2 separate regions of the Homo sapiens genome follow, and region 2 is linked to region 1. The links come from fine-mapping of genetic effects on gene expression. A gene starts in region 1. The other region holds a variant in brackets. All regions are shown on one strand. Distances are between the middles of the regions.

The links.
Region 2: its variant is fine-mapped to the expression of SSNA1 in whole blood (TOPMed, PIP above 0.99).

What each region holds. Positions count from the first base shown.
Region 1 is chr9:137,184,302-137,192,611 of GRCh38, reverse strand. It overlaps SSNA1 (SS nuclear autoantigen 1), which reads right to left and starts at 3,936. Exons shown (of 3, transcript NM_003731.3): 1 at 3,834-3,936; 2 at 3,347-3,546; 3 at 2,246-2,805. The coding sequence starts at 3,885. The coding sequence ends at 2,698. It overlaps ANAPC2 (anaphase promoting complex subunit 2), which reads left to right and starts at 4,052. Exons shown (of 13, transcript NM_013366.4): 1 at 4,052-4,196; 2 at 4,509-5,131; 3 at 6,256-6,388; 4 at 7,525-7,699. The coding sequence starts at 4,080. TPRN (taperin) reads left to right here. Exons shown (of 4, transcript NM_001128228.3): 2 at 1-161; 3 at 247-353; 4 at 438-993. The coding sequence ends at 500. RefSeq lists a silencer at 3,545-3,894 and an enhancer at 3,925-4,144.
Region 2 is chr9:136,833,079-136,841,388 of GRCh38, reverse strand. It overlaps RABL6 (RAB, member RAS oncogene family like 6), which reads right to left. Exons shown (of 15, transcript NM_024718.5): 8 at 5,544-5,647; 9 at 3,727-4,043; 10 at 3,374-3,527; 11 at 2,268-2,480; 12 at 1,903-2,167; 13 at 1,524-1,695; 14 at 1,177-1,235; 15 at 202-1,067. The coding sequence ends at 867. Among named protein-coding and RNA genes, the nearest start is that of AJM1, 5.2 kb to the left of the region's middle. RefSeq lists a silencer at 1-12 and an enhancer at 2,192-3,073. The variant C/T (reference allele first, on the strand shown) is at 4,310.

The sequences.
Region 1 (8,310 bases):
GGTGGACCAGCAGGAGGAGGAGGAGGAGGAGGAGGAGGAAGAGGAAGAGGAGGAAGAGGGATCCGGCTCAGAGGAGAAGCCCTTTGCACTCTTCCTGCCCCGGGCCACGTTTGTGAGCAGCGTGAGACCCGAGAGCTCTCGGCTGCCAGAGGGTAGCTCAGGTGAGTGCCCACCTGGGGGACAGGCAGCCTGGGAGGGGTGGAGCCTGGTCTGTGTCCACGTCTGCATGTGCACCTCCATTCACAGGCCTGTCCAGCTACACCCCGAAGCACTCTGTGGCCTTCAGCAAGTGGCAGGAGCAGGCGCTGGAGCAGGCCCCGAGGGAGGCAGAGCCCCCGCCCGTGGAGGCCATGGTGAGATGCGGGGGAGTGGAGCGCTGGGGGGAGTCTGACACCCGGGCGAGCCCATGTGTCCACATTCTGTCCTCTCACTTTCAGCTCACACCCGCCAGTCAGAATGACCTCTCGGACTTCCGCAGCGAGCCAGCCCTGTATTTCTGAGCCCAGCACTGCCAGGACCAAGGCTGAGCCCAGCTGTGGGAGTCCCGGAAGCTGGGCAGTAGCCAGGGACTACTGCACCCGCTTCTGCCTTGTTTGGCCTCACTGTATCCCACCCACCCCTCCTGGCCCTGGAAGCAGCTAGGGTGCCTCCTGCCATCGGGGCCAGGTCTGGGTCTCACTCCCCGGCCCTGATTTGGGAGGGTCCAAGGGGGAAGTGGGGTGGGGAACTGCCTGTGGGTGAGTGCCAGGGGCCTGCTGGGTGGTGGCCATCTGCGACCCGGCAGGGGGCTGTGCAGATTCTGCACCTGGCCATTCCCTGTCCTGTCTCCTCAGCCTGCCTCACAGTGGCCATGGGGTGTCGGGGTGAAGGGCTGTCCCAGCTACTTGTCCTCTGCAGGACCCTAAGCCCCTGCCCGCAGCCCACATGCCCTCTGTGATGAGTGGCGTCTTTCCTGCCTCTGATGATGGACTCAATAAACAGCACTGGACAAGGCTGCTGGTGTCCCCACTGCGTGGTCCTTGGCTGAGAAGGGAGCAGGGGGAGGTCTCTGCAGGAAGAGGCCACATGGGGTCCAGTGGGCCCCAGTTTGCACGTCTATGCCAGGGTGTGTGGGAGGTGACCCCGATCTGGTACCCCCACTCCTTGATGTCCCAGTGGCCAAGGCTCTGACCTCCCAACTTCCATGGCCTGTTAACCTGTTGCCCCTCCACCCCAGCCTCCCAGAGCTGGCACTGTGGGAGGTAGGATGACAGGCCTGCTGTCAGGGGCCTAGACTTCAGGTGGGAGGGTGAGAGTGTTGCAGCTGTTGGGCCTGAAGTGGCTTCTCTGAGGGGCCCAGAGCCTGGGGAGGGACCAAGGGAAGGGCAGCATGAGGGCAGCACAGGGGACGGTGTCTTCTGCTGGGCTTGGCGTGCCCCCCGACCCACAGGATGAGGCAGGCCGGGAGCAGCGCCTGCCTCAGACGGCCAGAGCTGGGGCTGTTTACAGCCCATGGAACCCAAGCACCATTTCCTCCCTGGAGGATCAAACCTAAGAGCAAAGAGATAAAGAGATGCTGTCTGGCCAAACTCCGGCGGAAGGAGAGTTTGGTGTATTTCCCTGGTCGGGTTAGGCCCAGCTCTTTTCTGGACCCTCTGGATCAACACATGCCTCCCAAATCGGCCCAGTCCTCGGGCCATGCTTGGTTGCTGCAGGGACAAAACAGAGGCCCCAGGGCACATGGAAGGATGGAAGTGGCCAGTGCTTGGTGTGCGGCCAGGGAAAGGTGGGCAGCAGGGCCTGGTGGCAGCAGTGGTGTCATCAGGCCAAGCAAAACTTGCAACTGAGGAACCGACGGGGGTGGGGGGTGTGAACTCCCCCCAGTCCTTGCTGAGAGGGACCTGAATCTGAGGCAGCTGCTGGATATGCTTGGCATCCCCAGCTGTCTCTCTGGGCTGGGTCCTATGCTGGCCACCAGGGTGTGGCAGAGAACAGGACGAGCAAGCAGAGCTCCTGAGAGGAGGGTGAGCCGTGGGCCAGTCAGGGGAAGAGGACCGGCGGCCCTGCTGGGGAGGGCTCAGGGTGGGGCTGGCCTGGGGAGGGTGGGCACCCTCAGCGGTGTCCCTGAGGCTAGTGGGGCAGTCACAGGGAGGCCACTCCAGACCCTCCTCCCTCCTCTCCCAAGGGGGAGCCTCAGGCTCTGGCTCTGCAGGTGTCTGGCAGCCCCATGCTGTTGATACGGGCAAGCAGCAGGCTGGCACGGATCTTTACAAAGATAATCTTTATTCATAATCACAGGCCACAGGGGTGAGACCTGAGGTTTGGGTTCTGTGGTGAAGGAGAACCCCTGTCCTCCTGTCCCTTGCCCTGGGCCTCTGCTGGCTGAGGAGGGACAAGGTGAGGGGGCCCCCATGGTGCTCAGACAACCAGAGCCTCCCTGGCAGGGCAGGAGTGTGGGTGCCACAGAGACAAGCCCCTTGCAGAGCTGACCTGGAGCCCACCATCCCCATAGCCTGTGTGAGCATGAAGCGAGGACCCCCGGGTGGGCTGTGCCCTGGGCTTGTCACTGATGCCAGTGGAGGCTGGCACCTGCCCCTCTCGGCACCTGAGACAGTGAGGGAAGGTAGCTGCTGCCGTGAAGAACAAAGATGCTCTGAGCACACACTTGCTGGGGCTGAGCTGAGGGGCACACGGAGGCAGGCCCTGCCCGTGGTCTGGTCAGCTGTCCCTGCCGCCGCTACTTTTCTGGTCTGGGGCTGTAGCCTTGGTCAGGTTCCCAGCTTCCCTCTTGAGAACGCTGAGCAAAGTCTGGGAGCTCTCCAGGATCTGGGGCCAGAGAAGTGAGAAGGTTGTTAATGTTCACCTGTTGGTAAGGTCCTAAGCCCCAGCTGTCCTCACACTCAGGTGCTGGGACCTGGCTGGGGGTGCTGTAGCCAAGGGATCCTGTGTGGGGGAAGGCGGAAGCCCAAGGGGACTGGCAGACGGGGTGGCAGGGCCCTCTTCCCTCCGGAATCTGACCCAAAACACTTCCTCTCCACCCTCAAAGCCAGGCTGGGTTAGCACTGGCCCGTGCTGGGTGCTCTGCCCAAGACCTGGCTCTTCACACTGAGCAGAAATAACCACATGGCTAGCGAGAACCGGATAAAGACCAGGACCCAGGATGCCCCAGGCCCCACAGACAGCCCCACAGTCACTCCCACAGCAGCCTGGGTTCCTCAATGGGCCTGGCCACGCTGCCCCTGCCCGAAATGCCAGCGAGGCACAGACTGCCCACAGCCGGGAGCCCCAGCCGGTCCTGACGCCTTGCCGTGGCAACACCCCTGCCGTGCCTATCCCCTGATGCTCGGCCTGGCCTCCCGAGCTCCACCTTGAGGTAGGCGGCCTCCGTCTCCGCGATGGTCCGGTCGAACTCGTTGCGAGAGGCAATCTTGCGTGCCAGGTTCTCGTTGACGCGGGCCAGCTTCTCTGTCAGCTGCCTCACCTCATTCTGCAGCCGCTGCTTCTCGTCCTCCTCCTCCTGGATCTGCCGGCACAGCTCCTCCCGCTTCTGGCACAGCTCCTCTATGCCTGGGGGCCGGGAGGGGCGGCGCTGTGGGCCCAGGGCAGGAGCGCGGCGGCGGAGGGCGGGCCTCCTTCCACCCGAGGAAGCCAGAGTCAGGCACCACCCCCGAGCGCCCGGCGCGGGGCCTGCGAGCCAGCGAGGGCTCGGGCCACGGACACCCGGCCTCCGGCACGGAGGGCTCTGCTCAGCCGCGCGATGCCCGCAGCGAGGCGGGTCCAGGGGCACCCCGCTGCGAGCCGGGAACCCGGCCCTGCGGCCCTCCCGACCTCCCCGTCCCGGCTGCGCCGCTCACACTTGACCAGCTCGTTGTTGTAGTTCTGCAGCGCCGCGCCCTGCTGGGTCATGGTCAACGCCGCCCGGGGCCCCACCACCCCAACCGCCGCGGAAGCAGCGCTGTCCGCGCCTGCGCACGACTCCCCCACGGCGCGCCGAACTAGCGCGTCATCGCTGAGCGCCTTGTGCGCGTCATGGCTGCGCGTGCAGACGTGCGTCATCGCCGCGCGCCGCGCCGAGCGAATCTCGGAGTCGGTGGGTGCAGATGGCGGCGGCAGTTGTGGTGGCGGAGGGGGACAGCGACTCCCGGCCCGGACAGGAGTTGTTAGTGGCCTGGAACACCGTGAGCACCGGCCTGGTGCCGCCGGCTGCGCTGGGGCTGGTGAGGCCTGGGAAGAGAGGGGCGGCCCCGCGCGGAGTTTCCGGGACCGTACGCGCTTTGGGGCCGCTACCCTCGGGTTCATACGGCTCTGTCCATCATCCGCCTCTGTCCTGTCCTGCCATTTTCCACCACCTTTCCGTTTCGTTTCGTTCAGCTCCGCTGACAGCCCTTCCATAGCTTCGGCCCAACGTCCGGGCAGCACGGACAGGGGGCAGCGGAGTTTTTGCAGCCTCCCCCTCAGCTTCTTCCCTTCCCCGCCTCTCCCCACCTCTATGTTGTGTTCCCCTCGCCTCACGGTTTTCTGCACCCCAGGTGTCTTCCCGGACCAGCGGTGCAGTCCCGCCAAAGGAAGAGGAGCTCCGGGCGGCGGTGGAGGTTCTGAGGGGCCACGGGCTACACTCGGTCCTGGAGGAGTGGTTCGTGGAGGTGCTGCAGAACGATCTGCAGGCCAACATCTCCCCTGAGTTCTGGAATGCCATCTCCCAATGCGAGAACTCTGCGGATGAGCCCCAGTGCCTTTTGCTACTCCTTGACGCTTTTGGCCTGCTGGAGAGCCGCCTGGATCCCTACCTGCGTAGCCTAGAGCTGCTGGAGAAATGGACTCGCCTGGGCTTGCTGATGGGCACTGGTGCTCAGGGGCTGCGAGAAGAAGTCCACACTATGTTGCGCGGAGTCTTGTTCTTTAGCACCCCCAGAACCTTCCAAGAGATGATCCAGCGTCTGTATGGGTGCTTCTTGAGAGTCTATATGCAGAGTAAGAGGAAGGGGGAAGGGGGCACAGACCCGGAACTGGAAGGGGAGCTGGACAGCCGGTATGCCCGTCGCCGGTACTACCGGCTCCTGCAGAGCCCGCTGTGTGCAGGGTGCAGCAGTGACAAGCAACAGTGCTGGTGTCGCCAGGCTCTGGAGCAGTTCCATCAGCTCAGCCAGGTCTTGTGAGTAGTCTGTCCCGATGGCCATGCCCTTGCTCCTTCTGGTTCCCCGCTGCTCCCCTGGGTCCAGCTGGCCTCAGCAGAAAGCTGGTGAGCCGTCCTGATAACCAGGAACATGACAGAGAGAGAGTCCCAGGGATTCCTGTGCAGCGTGTCCTGGACACAGGTGTCTCTCTTCTGTCACTCACCTTCAGTCCCACAGATTCATGCCTTGACCCTGGTAAGGCCCTATGTGGCTTGTGTCTGCAGCAGCAAATTTCTTAGCAACTCCAAACTTCCTGGACTCTGCAGAATTCCACTGTGCCTTTTGTCGATCCTGGGGAGGAATGATTCTCACCCTCGTCGACATTCCTTGCCCTGTAATTGTGAACAGAAGCTTGCTGCTGCTTCTCTCCAGGAAGATCAGGTCACTGTGAGGGCAAGCAGTCTCTTGTTAGTTTGGAGAGGAGAGGGGTTTGTTGTGAGAGACAGGTCCTGTTGTAGTTCTCTAGCAATTGTCATACCCTTGGCCATTTGTGGTGGTTTTGTCACATTGAACGGGGGTGTAGCCATGCAGCTACTTGAGAGGTCTTAGGTGGACTAAAGGTGGACTAAAGGAGTGCTCCTTTTGCTGGCAGGGGTCAGGGAGACCGTGAAGGGCTTCTGTTGGGCTCATCCCTGCAAAAGTTACACGGCAACTTTTCTCATCCTCCTCTTGAGTCCTTTTGTCACTGTAGACCAGAGACTGCACTGAAAGGCACAAACAGTGGCATCTGTACCTCTGCGGCCAGGGTAGCAGTGCAGTTGGTTGTCGTTTCAGAGTTGATCCTAGGAGATAAGGCTAGGGCCCCCGACAGCCACACCTGCTGCCACTGATCACATGGGGAAGGCCAGTGTCCCTACCTGGATAGAGGCCAGCTGGGCGGGGACAGCAGAGCCTGGGAGTGCTCTGTGCTCCCAGTGGCTTCTTGAAGCCTTTGGTACAACCGCCCCCCACAGCTGAGGATTGTGGGGAGGTGTGTGCTGGGTGTGTGTGTGTGTGTGTGCTGCATGCACTCTACAGGCAGGGCAGTCCTGGCATGGGGCTGTTCTGGGCTAGAGGGGCCGGTGTGTGCTCTGGGTGCCCCATGGCCAGGGCTCTCCTCTAGACACAGGCTCAGTCTGCTGGAGCGGGTCAGTGCCGAGGCTGTGACCACCACCCTGCACCAGGTGACCCGGGAGAGGATGGAGGACCGTTGCCGGGGCGAGTACGAGCGCTCCTTCCTGCGTGAGTTCCACAAGGTGAGGACCCCTCCCTTGGGCTGTGCCCCGCTGGAGACAGGGGAGTAGGTTTCTGGCAAACCTGACACCTGGCTTCAGAAGCATCCAGAGCACGGAGGCCTGGGTGGGCCCAGACCGGGTGGTGGCTGGAGCTGTCTTGATGTGGGGTAGAGACCAGTACTTCTGGGCCCTGGTGATAGCGAGGACGCATCTGAGGTGCGCTCTTCGGATCTGCGCAGAATCCCATGGCTGCAGGCGGTATCGGGCCAGGATCCCGAGGGGGCTACCTCAGGCAGGTGTGGCGAAGCTGGGCCCACCAGAGGAGCCACTGAATGGATCCCCTTCTCCTGTTTGCTGCCCTACTTGAGTGTGGACTCGCTTGGCCGGTCCCTAATGGACTGACCTACAGCCAGCCTGCACCACAGCGGGGAGCGAGACACCCTCACATGGGGCCTCCAGGCACCTGTGCTGTTGGGGTGTGGTCTGGGGCTCTGCTCTGGGCTCCCGGAGCCATAGGGGAGCTGGGCCCAGCCATGTGGGTCCCCCCATCCTGTTCCCATGTGTCACCTGTCCTTTCCTCAGTGTTTCAGAGTCCCCCTACTGAGGTGCAGATTGGCTGTGATGTTGGGTTTTCAAAGAGGGAGGGTGTCCCCAAAGCGGTGGGCAAGAGTGGGTAGTAGGGTGGAGAGGGTGAACATCCGTGCGGTCTTGCCACTGGGTAGCAGGTCTGTGGGGCATGAGCACGCCTGGGCCCCGCGGCGGAATTGCCACCTAGAGGTTTGTGCTCGCCTGGGCCCCCCGGCTGGTCTCAAGGGCGTGTTTATCCATTTAAGTGGGGGCAAGTGTGCCCACCAGGCACAGCGCACAGGTCGTGTGTGTCTGTCATGTCTCACGCTAGGGTTGCTGCTGCCAGTGATAAGTGTGGGCACTGGCGCGTGTGAGAGGCACGAAGACTGCAGGGGGGCCGGGACGTCGCCTTTTGGGCCATCACCCACCCTGCAGGTTTTGATGTGCTCCAGCCTCCAGACGCAGGTGGCCTTCGGGCTCCCCTCGGTCCCGGCCGACAGGGTGGGTGGCCGTGAGGCTCCTCCCAGCCTCTGAGTCAGCCCGGGGCTCACCATGCCTCCCTGCAGCTCACACTAGCGTTCTCCTGACAGTGGATCGAGCGGGTGGTCGGCTGGCTCGGCAAGGTGTTCCTGCAGGACGGCCCCGCCAGGCCCGCATCTCCCGAGGCCGGCAACACCCTGCGCCGCTGGCGCTGCCACGTGCAAAGGTTCTTCTACCGCATCTACGCCAGCCTGCGCATCGAGGAGCTCTTCAGCATCGTCCGAGGTGGTCCTGCCCCGGCCCTGGGGTCCGCTCTCCCGTCTGGGGAGTCTTCCCAGGGCCTTCCCCGTGTCTCCTCTGTGTCTGCATCTGGGCTCCCTGTGCCTTCACCGTGTCTGCTCTGTGTCTGCGTCTGGGGCTCCCAGGGCCTTTGCCGTGTCTGCTCTGTGTCTGCGTCTGGGCTCCCTGTGTCTGCGTCTTGGGCTCCCTGTGCCTTCGCCGTGTCTGCTCTGTGTCTGCGTCTGGGCTCCCTGTGTCTGCGTCTGGGCTCCCTGTGCCTTCACCGTGTCTGCTCTGTCTGCGTCTGGGGCTCCCAGGGCCTTCGCCGTGTCTGCTCTGTCTGCGTCTGGGCTCCCTGTGTCTGCGTCTGGGGCTCCCAGGGCCTTCGCTGTGTCTGCTCTGTGTCTGCATCTGGGCTCCCTGTGCCTTCGCCGTGTCTGCTCTGTGTCTGCGTCTTGGGCTCCCTGTGCCTTCACCGTGTCTGCTCTGTGTCTGCGTCTGGGCTCCCTGTGTCTGCGTCTGGGCTCCCCGTGCCTTCACCGTGTCTGCTCTTTGTCTGCATCTGGGGCTCCCAGGGCCTTCGTCGTGTCTGCTCTGTGTCTGTGTCTGGGCTCCTT
Region 2 (8,310 bases), 350 kb after region 1:
TTCCACCTCCTGGGGCTGAGGTCGCCAAGCGTGCTGCGTGCAGCTGCTGAGCCCTGGCACAGGTGGGCTGGAATGTACCCAGGGTGTGGCCAGACTTGGTGGGACGTCCTCACACCACTGCTGGGCAGCCTCCTGCCAACCCACGGCAGCCTGGGCCCGGGGCAGCGGGAGCAGAGGTACAGGCAGAAGAACAGACACACGCAGAGTGAAACAGGAGTGCTTTATGGTCTGAGTGGAGTGTTTGGGAGGAGTGCCTCCCGGCTCCTGCCTTCGGGCTCACCTGAGCGGGGGCGCAGCTGAGGCCACTGTGGGAAACACAACCCCCACTCCCAGGAGAGGCCTCACATGCTGCCTTCGGTCTCGCCAGCCTTCTAGCGTGGGGCCTGGGCCGCCCTTTAGGGTGAGTCTGCACACCCGTGTTCAGGGCTCCCGGCCGGAAGCGGAACCATAGGCATGCTGCGGCCCCAGATGAGCGCGGAGGGCAAGCAGGTGCCGGGGCAGCGCACACCCCACAGCCAAGCGGCCCCTGCCCAGCCTCTGTAAACAGACCCTCACAGGTCCCTCCTGGGCCTCAGTCACATCCCTGAGAAACACTGGCGGCTCTGCCCCGAGAGGGCCAGGGTGTCCACCGAGCCTGGCTGAAGCCAGCTGTCCCCTCCCTTCTTGCAGAGCAGGCTCACACTGGGCCTGAAGGCCCAGCACCTGCAGGGCCCAGCCTGGGGACCACCAATGCCCGGCCTCTTCCAGCTCAGAAGCGCACACGGCAGCCACGGGGCAGCGGCAAAGGCGATGGTACAGAGGCAAATGCCTCCCCAGGCAGTGACAGGCACGCCCCCCGCCCCAGGGCGGCCACTGCCCACGCCGGCCTAGAGCTCCTCGTAGTCGCCACCCCCAGGGTGGCGGCCGCCCGGGGCCCCGCCCCCCAGGAAAGCCTCCAGCTCATCGGCAGCCGTCCTCTCCCTGCTGCGCGGGGGCCGCTGCTGCCGCCGTCGCCGCTCCTCCTTGCCCTCCTCCTTGTCCTTGCTCTTCTTGTGTTTGCTCTTCTTCTTGGCAGCTTTTTCTTCTTCCTGAGGAGCACAAGGATGGGGCGCCATGGAGTCACAGGAAGCCACAGCCCTGGTCCCAGGACCGCATGCCACCCAGTCCTGGCCTGCCAGGAAGGGGAGTAGCCAGTACCTCTTTGCCTTTTTTCTTCTTCTTCTTCTTCTCCTTAGAGGGGGTTTTGCCCTCCTTACCTGCACAGACAGGACAGACAGTGGCTCAAACTCAGGCCAACGGGGACCCCAAGCTGGGTGACAGGACTTCTCTAGAAACTCACAAAGCAGCGAGCCCCAGCCCTCCAGGAGGCCCTGCTGATGGACAGGACCACACTGCAAACATCAGCTCCTGCAGGGGGCTGCCAGGAGCATGGCACAGCATCCTGGACTCAGGAGAGGACCCCGGCCAGCGGCCAGCAGCTGGGAGGAGGCCCACGTTCTACCCAAACTCCAGCAGGCTGACCGCACTCTGGTGCCCCCACCCACCTTCCTCACTGCTCTCCTTGGGTCCGGCCTCCTCCAGCCCCAGCCCGAAGAGGTCCGAGTCATTCTTCAGTCTGAAGGCGGGGAGAGGGAGCTTGGGGGGTGGGGGCGGCTCGGCAGGGCCCTCATCCTCGTCAGTCACATCGGAGGGGTCATCTCGCACGGGAAAGTCATCCTGGAGCAGGGAGAGCAACTGGTCAGGCCATCATCCCTCCCACACCCCCAGGGGTTGTGGGATCTCAAACCAGGCCGGCAAGGCCCAAGTGTGGGGACATGAGATGCCTCTTCCAGAAGCCTCCTCCCACTGCACCCACCCAGATCAGGCCTGTGGGAGGGACCCTGGCCACCTGGCTGACCTCTGCCCCGGGAGGACTCGTCTTACCGCCCTGCGCTGTGTGTCTGATCCCTCGCTCTCAAAGTCGGGGTCATCCATGACGAAGGACAGCATTTGTGCAGCAATGGGTCCCTCGGGGTCACTCTCCGACGAGGAGGCCTGCTCACCCTTCCCCGGCTCCATCTCAGCAGGGGGCCTGGTGCTGCTGCGCTTCTCCGGACCTGTGCGAACAGAGACACCGCCTGGCCAGGGGGGTGCTGCGGTCCTCGTGGGAGCTGTCCCCCTCCGTGGCTTCGAAGCTGGTATGGAGGACCTTTGTGGACAAGCAGAGGGTCAGTCAGGGTCCTCTGGAGGCGTCCTGAACTGCCCCACCCGGGTCTCCAGGCCGCACCCGTGGGGACACCTGCCCTTACCACTTGGTCTCTGGCTCTGAGCACTGCTGGGGAGCTGGGGCAGGGCCTTTTGTGGGAGCTGCCACTTCTGCTTCCTCCTCACTCGAAAGAGTGATGTCTTGACTGGGGACGGGGCCTGCAGGCAGCGGGGGACTCCCACGTGGCTGGTCTTCGAGGTCCACATCGTCCTGGAACCCTGCCACCATCGGGTTGCCGCCCAGGGCCTCCCCATCACTGCAAAGCAGGGGGCAAAGCGGTCAAGGGCCACGGGGTAGGGATGGCTGGCCGGGCTCACGGGCCTTGGTTCTAGGCGCCCTGGTACCCAGCACACCCTGGCCGTGGGGCCACCCCACCCCAGGTGCTGTGTTGTGGAGAGGCCCCCTCATGGTCACAGGGCTTCTGAGCAGGAAGGGGTCGGGGGCACAAGGTTGGACACAGTGCTGCCCTGCGGCCGCTCAGTGGGTGAAGGATGTGGAGCCGCACAAGTGGGCGCTCGTGGAGGAGGCGGGCCCAGCTCAGGGCCACGGGGCTTTCTGTCCTTTGTGTATTTCTGGAGGAAGCCGCTGCCCCACAGCAATGGGTGAGGCTGAGGTGCTGAGGCCACTGTGGGTGGAGCTTGTCCAGGGCTGTCCTGGGACCAAATGCAGGGCTTTGCTGCAGGCAAAATTTGGGGCAGCTTGGCAGACAGAGTGGTGGGAGGGGCTGGCAGATGGCTGGGGAGGCGGCTCTAGCTCCCAGCTCTAGGACCTGCAGGAAGCCGCCCCTGTCTCTGCAGCACCTGGATCCTGGCCCTGTGGAGACCACATCTGGTGGCCTGAACCTCCCATATGACCTGCAGTGGCCTCTCCAATGGCTTCCATGTGGCATCTGCCCACAGAAGACCCCAAGGTGCCCCTGTCCTCTCCAGGGTGTGGGCAGAGCAGGTGGCCAGGCCTTTCTGATGTCTGGAAGCCCCGTCCAAGCCCTTCCCTCGTCTGCTCCAGCCACAGAGCTGCTCTGTCCTCAGCCAACAGTGACCAGCCGGCGGGGGGCCCCTTCTGCGCCCCTAGAAAGCCAGCCCCACCTGCTGCTCGGGCACCCTGGAGGCTGGGGGGCAATGGGAGAGGAGGCCCAGGCCCACCCCTCACCTGTCGCTGTCCTGCTGGGCAGCCTTGGCCCCCACCTTCTTCTCGTCCCTGGCGGGGGTTGTGTCTTCCAGGAAGCTGCGGTCCAGGCGGTCGTCAGGAACAAAGTCCTCCACACTCTGGACCGTTGCTGGGCCCTCTGCGGCCGGGACTGGCTCTGTGAACAGTGATGCCGGGTCCTCTTCACTCGGCACCAGAACCCTCACTGCACCCAACCCCAAGCCAGGCCCACCCGGGATGTGCCCACGGGACTGGGACAAGCAGGAAGAAGCGTGGAGCGCTCCGAAATCCAGGACCCCACCTGTGAGGGCCTGGGGGTCTGGGACCAGTTTGGGAGGGGCAGCTCCAGGGCCTACCTGGAGGTGGAGGGGCTGCCTCGGTGGCAGGTGACGTCCCAAACAGCCTAGAGATGATGCTGCGCCGTGGGGCGGGGGCTGAGGGGCACGCAGGTGGGGGCAGGGCCTCTGAGGGTGGTACAGGGGGCACAGAGGATGGTGGGGCGGCATTGAGGGGCAGCTGTGGGGCGGGCTGGGGTGTGCCGGGGCTGGAGCTCCCCGTGGACACAGCGCCTGCAGGCACCACTGGTGACTGGGAGCCCGGGGATGGGCTCTGCCCGTTGGCCGCCAGTGGGGACGCATGGCCACGGCTGCGAGCCTCCATCATCTCCAGGAAGCTGAAAGGCAGAAGGCGGGTGAGAAGCCTGGCTCCCCTGCCTCTCCCTGAGGCCCTCAGGTGACAGGGGGCTCTCTGCTGCTGCTGCTGGGGCTGGGAAGAGCCACTGTGTTCTGGGCCACCCGCCCCACAGAGGCCATCATCCCCATCCACTTCCAAGGGCAGCAGTGCCAGCCAGGCACGGTGGCTCATGCCTGTAATCCCAGCACTGTAGGAGGCCAAGGCAGGCAGATCACGAGGTCAGGAGGTGGAGACCGTCCTGGCTAA[C/T]GCAGTGAAACCCCGTCTCTACTAAAAATACAAAAAAAATTAGCCGGGTGTGGTGGCGGGTGCCTGTAGCCCCAGCTACTTGGGAGGCTGAGGCAGGAGAATGGCGTGAACCCGGGAGGCGGAGCTTGCGGTGAGCCGAGATCACACCACTGCGCTCCAGCCTGGGCGACAGAGCGAGACTCCATCTCAGAAAAAGAAAGAGCAGCAGTGCCAAAGGGTGGGGACAGCAGGCACCAGCGTACATGTGTCCAGCTCCCCTGAAAGTCACTTCGGATCTGTTCTGAGGCACAGCTGTTGGGGGCTCCATGCAGAGGTGGCCAGATGGCAGCAACTGGACCTTCCCGTGAGCGGGGGTTTCTGGGAAGAGGAGGGGGCTGGGGCTTGGTGGAGCACGTGCGGCCATCGCAGCATCCAGCTGACCCAACTCTCAGGCCCAGGAAATGCCAGGATTGGTTCAACAGAGAAGCGCCCATGCGGGGGGCTCCATTCTGGGGCTGGCCTGGCAGCTGGAAGCCACGGGTCCCTCTCCAGGCATCAAACTGCCTTCCCTCTCGGTCTCTTGCTGTGTCTGAGCCAACAGCCAGATCCAAGGTGACCCACAGGGCTCTCCTTCTGGAAACAGAGACCTCCTGGGGGGCCTCAGGAGGGCCACTGATTCCGTGGTCCCTGCCTGGGTCCCAGGGGAGGCACCAAGCCCCTAGCTGTACAGGAGCCTGAGGCAGAGAACGGGCCAGCTGTCCCACTGGCCGCAACCCCGGGGCTATGCACTGCCCAGGCCCACTCAGGAGGATGCTCTGAGCCGCCCTCTGCTATCGAGGACCAGAGACCTCCATGTCCTGGCCTGTATGCCTCTTCAACACAGGGAGCTTCCCAAAGTCAAGCAGCTCCCCAGAAAGCACACCCCATGCTGGCATCAATCTGGGAGGCCAAGCCCCTGATGGGCAGGCAGCCCCAGCAGCACTCCATGAGCACCAGCACCTGGCCACGGTCAGCGGTACTCAGAGTGGCAGGCACAGCATGACCTGTATGAGGAGTCCACGCCAGGGGTGACTGTGGGGGGGCTGCTGGGGGCAGTGCAAACCTGAGTCCTCCTCCACCCGTGCCCAAAGGTGACTAATTTACCCCAAACAGGGGACACTCCCCTCTGCTGTCTCCTTGGTGCAGCCCATGGCCCTGCACCACGGCCACGCCCGCAGCCCCCACACCGCCCGCACGGGCGGGTCCGGCCACATACATGCCGTAGTTCTGGTCCTCCGTCTCCTGCTGCACCGACAGCTCCTCCAGCGTGGCGTCCATGTCCAGCTGGTTCGTCTCCAGCTGCCGCAACAGCGTCTCCCTCTGCAGAAAGGGAGCACGCAGGCCTGAGCAGGGCTCCTTCCTGCTGCGAGTGCCCCAGCCCCACAGCCCCTGAATGCACAGGGGACGCCTCCTGCTGCCAAAACCAGGAGATGCTGCAGGGCTGGCTGCTCAGCAACTCATGGAGCTCTGCGCTGGGCCCCACTTGAACCACAGAAGCCCAGAGGATTCCTCTGCGGTGGCCGGCACGACACCTACACACTGCCAGCATGGCTTGGGGGACAGCTGTCAGTCACAGGCATAAACCTCAACAGCAAGCACCCCCACCCACACACGCACCTCTAAGAGTGAAGAAGCCGCACCTTCACCTGGGAAACAAAGCCCCTCTGCTCCCCGCCACGCACACCTCCTCTGGTGGCAGGACACATCCCCGGTGCACGCGTCGCCACCGTCCCACACCCACAAGCAGCTGGCTCTGGAGCAAACCACTGCCCTCCTGGCCTGGAACCCCAGGCTGGTCTGATGAGCTGCGGGTCCCTGTGGCTGCTCACTTTAGATTCAAATGAAATACAAACGCCGGAGCCTCACGAACTCCTGACCTCAGGTGATCCAGCTGCCTCAGCATCCAAAGTGCGAGGATGACAGTCGGGAGCCACCGTGCCCGGCCCCTTCTCTTTTTTTAAATAGAGATGGGGTCTCGCTATGTTGCCCAGACTGGTCTCTAATTCCTGGACTCAAGTGATCCTCCCAGCTTGGCCTCTGCTGAAATTACAGGCCTGAGCTACTTGCCTGGCCTCTCCTTTTTTTTTTTTTGAATCATCTTTTTCAGAGATTTTTTTTTTTTTTTTTTTTTTAGAACAGGGTCATGCTATATTATATTGCCCAGGCAGAAGATCTGGAACTCCTGGGCTCGAGCTGTCCTCCCACCTCTGCCTCCCTAACAGCTGGGATTATAGGCGTGAGCCACTGCGCCCAGCCTGGAGAGGTTTTTAAAATAAAAATGTGAGGCTGGGCGTGGTGGCTCACACCTGTAATCCCAGCACTTTGGGGGGGCCAAGGCGGGCAGATCACGAGGTCAAGAGATCGAGACCGTCCTGGCCAATATGGCAAAACCCCGTCCCTACTAAAAATACAAAAATTAGCCAGGCGTGGTGGCAGGCGCCTGTAATCCCAGCTACTTGGGAGGCTTAGGCAGGAGAATCGCTTGAACCCAGGAGGCAGAGGTTACAGTGAGGCAAGATTGCACCACCGTACTCCAGCCTGGACAGAGTGAGACTCCGTCTCCAAAAAAAAGAGTGTATTAAAGTCATTAAGGTCCCCAGGCTATAACAACAACAAAAAAATGTGATTTACAAAGAGAAATCTACAGACTTGTCAACCAAATGTAATGTGTGAACTCTGGATCCTACTCTGAATACTGACCAAATATCTGACGACTGGAAGAACTCTTTGGGAATTTTATTTTTTCAATTTGTTATTGTGGCTTATTTCTCCAAGAAAAACCTTCTGTGAGTTTAACATGCGGTATTACATTAGGTACTACGGTCAGGTTAAAAAAACAACTGATTTTTTTAGAGATGTGTTTGAAATATTTTTAGGTGACATAAAGAAGGCCTGAAATTTGCTTCCAGGCAATCCAGGGGCAAGACAAAGAGGAAACAGGGGTCCCGCTGCTGAGACAGGCGAGGACATCAGATCTGCTTGAACACATCCATAGCAAAAGGATAGTCACACACAGCTCAGCCCTACGCTTCCAGCTCAAGACTCTGTCCAGGGTCCCGTTCTCTCCCTGGGAGGCTTTGGAAGGGTTTGGAGGGCAAACCATTAGGGAATGGAGCAGCTGAGCAGTGGGGAGCTCTCTAAGGAGTAATCAACCCAGTGATGAGGGGACGGCTCTGCAGGAAGGAGGGGCCTCCCCAGCAGTGCCGGCACAGGACAAGTCTGACTGCCGCCTTCCTTCCAACCCAAACGTCCCCAGCAGCAGTCCCAGCCTGCAGGCATCCTCACTTCTTCTGACACCAGGACGACAGCACAGCCCCTTTCCTGGGCAAGCCTGACATCCTTCTGGAGAAAGACCAAGGCTGCTGCAGCTGCAGCTGGGCCCCAGGTCCCCCAGACCCAGTCGGGGCAGCCCAGGGCGAGGAGGTTCAGGTCCCCCAGACCCAGCTGGGGCAGCCCAGGGCGAGGAGGTTCAGGTCCCCAGACCCAGCTGGGGCAGCCCAGGGTGAGGAGATTCAGGTCCCCCAGACCCAGTCGGGGCAGCCCAGGGCGAGGAGGTTCAGGTCCCCCAGACCCAGGCGGGGCAGCCCAGGGCGAGGAGGTACAGGTCCCCCAGACCCAGCTGGGGCAGCCCAGGGCGAGGAGGTTCAGGTCCCCCAGACCCAGGCGGGGCAGCCCAGGCAAGGAGGTTCAGGTCCCCCAGACCCAGGCGGGGCAGCCCAGGGCGAGGAGGTTCAGGTCCCCCAGATCCAGCTGGGGCAGCCCAGGGCGAGGAGGTTCAGGTCCCCCAGACCCAGCTGGGGCAGCCCAGGGCGAGGAGGTTCAGGTCCCCCAGACCCAGCTGGGGCAGCCCAGGGCGAGGAGGTTCAGGTCCCCAGACCCAGGTGGGGCAGCCCAGGGCGAGGAGGTTCAGGTCCCCAGACCCAGGCGGGGCAGCCCAGGGCGAGGAGGTTCAGGTCCCCAGACCCAGGCGGGGCAGCCCAGGG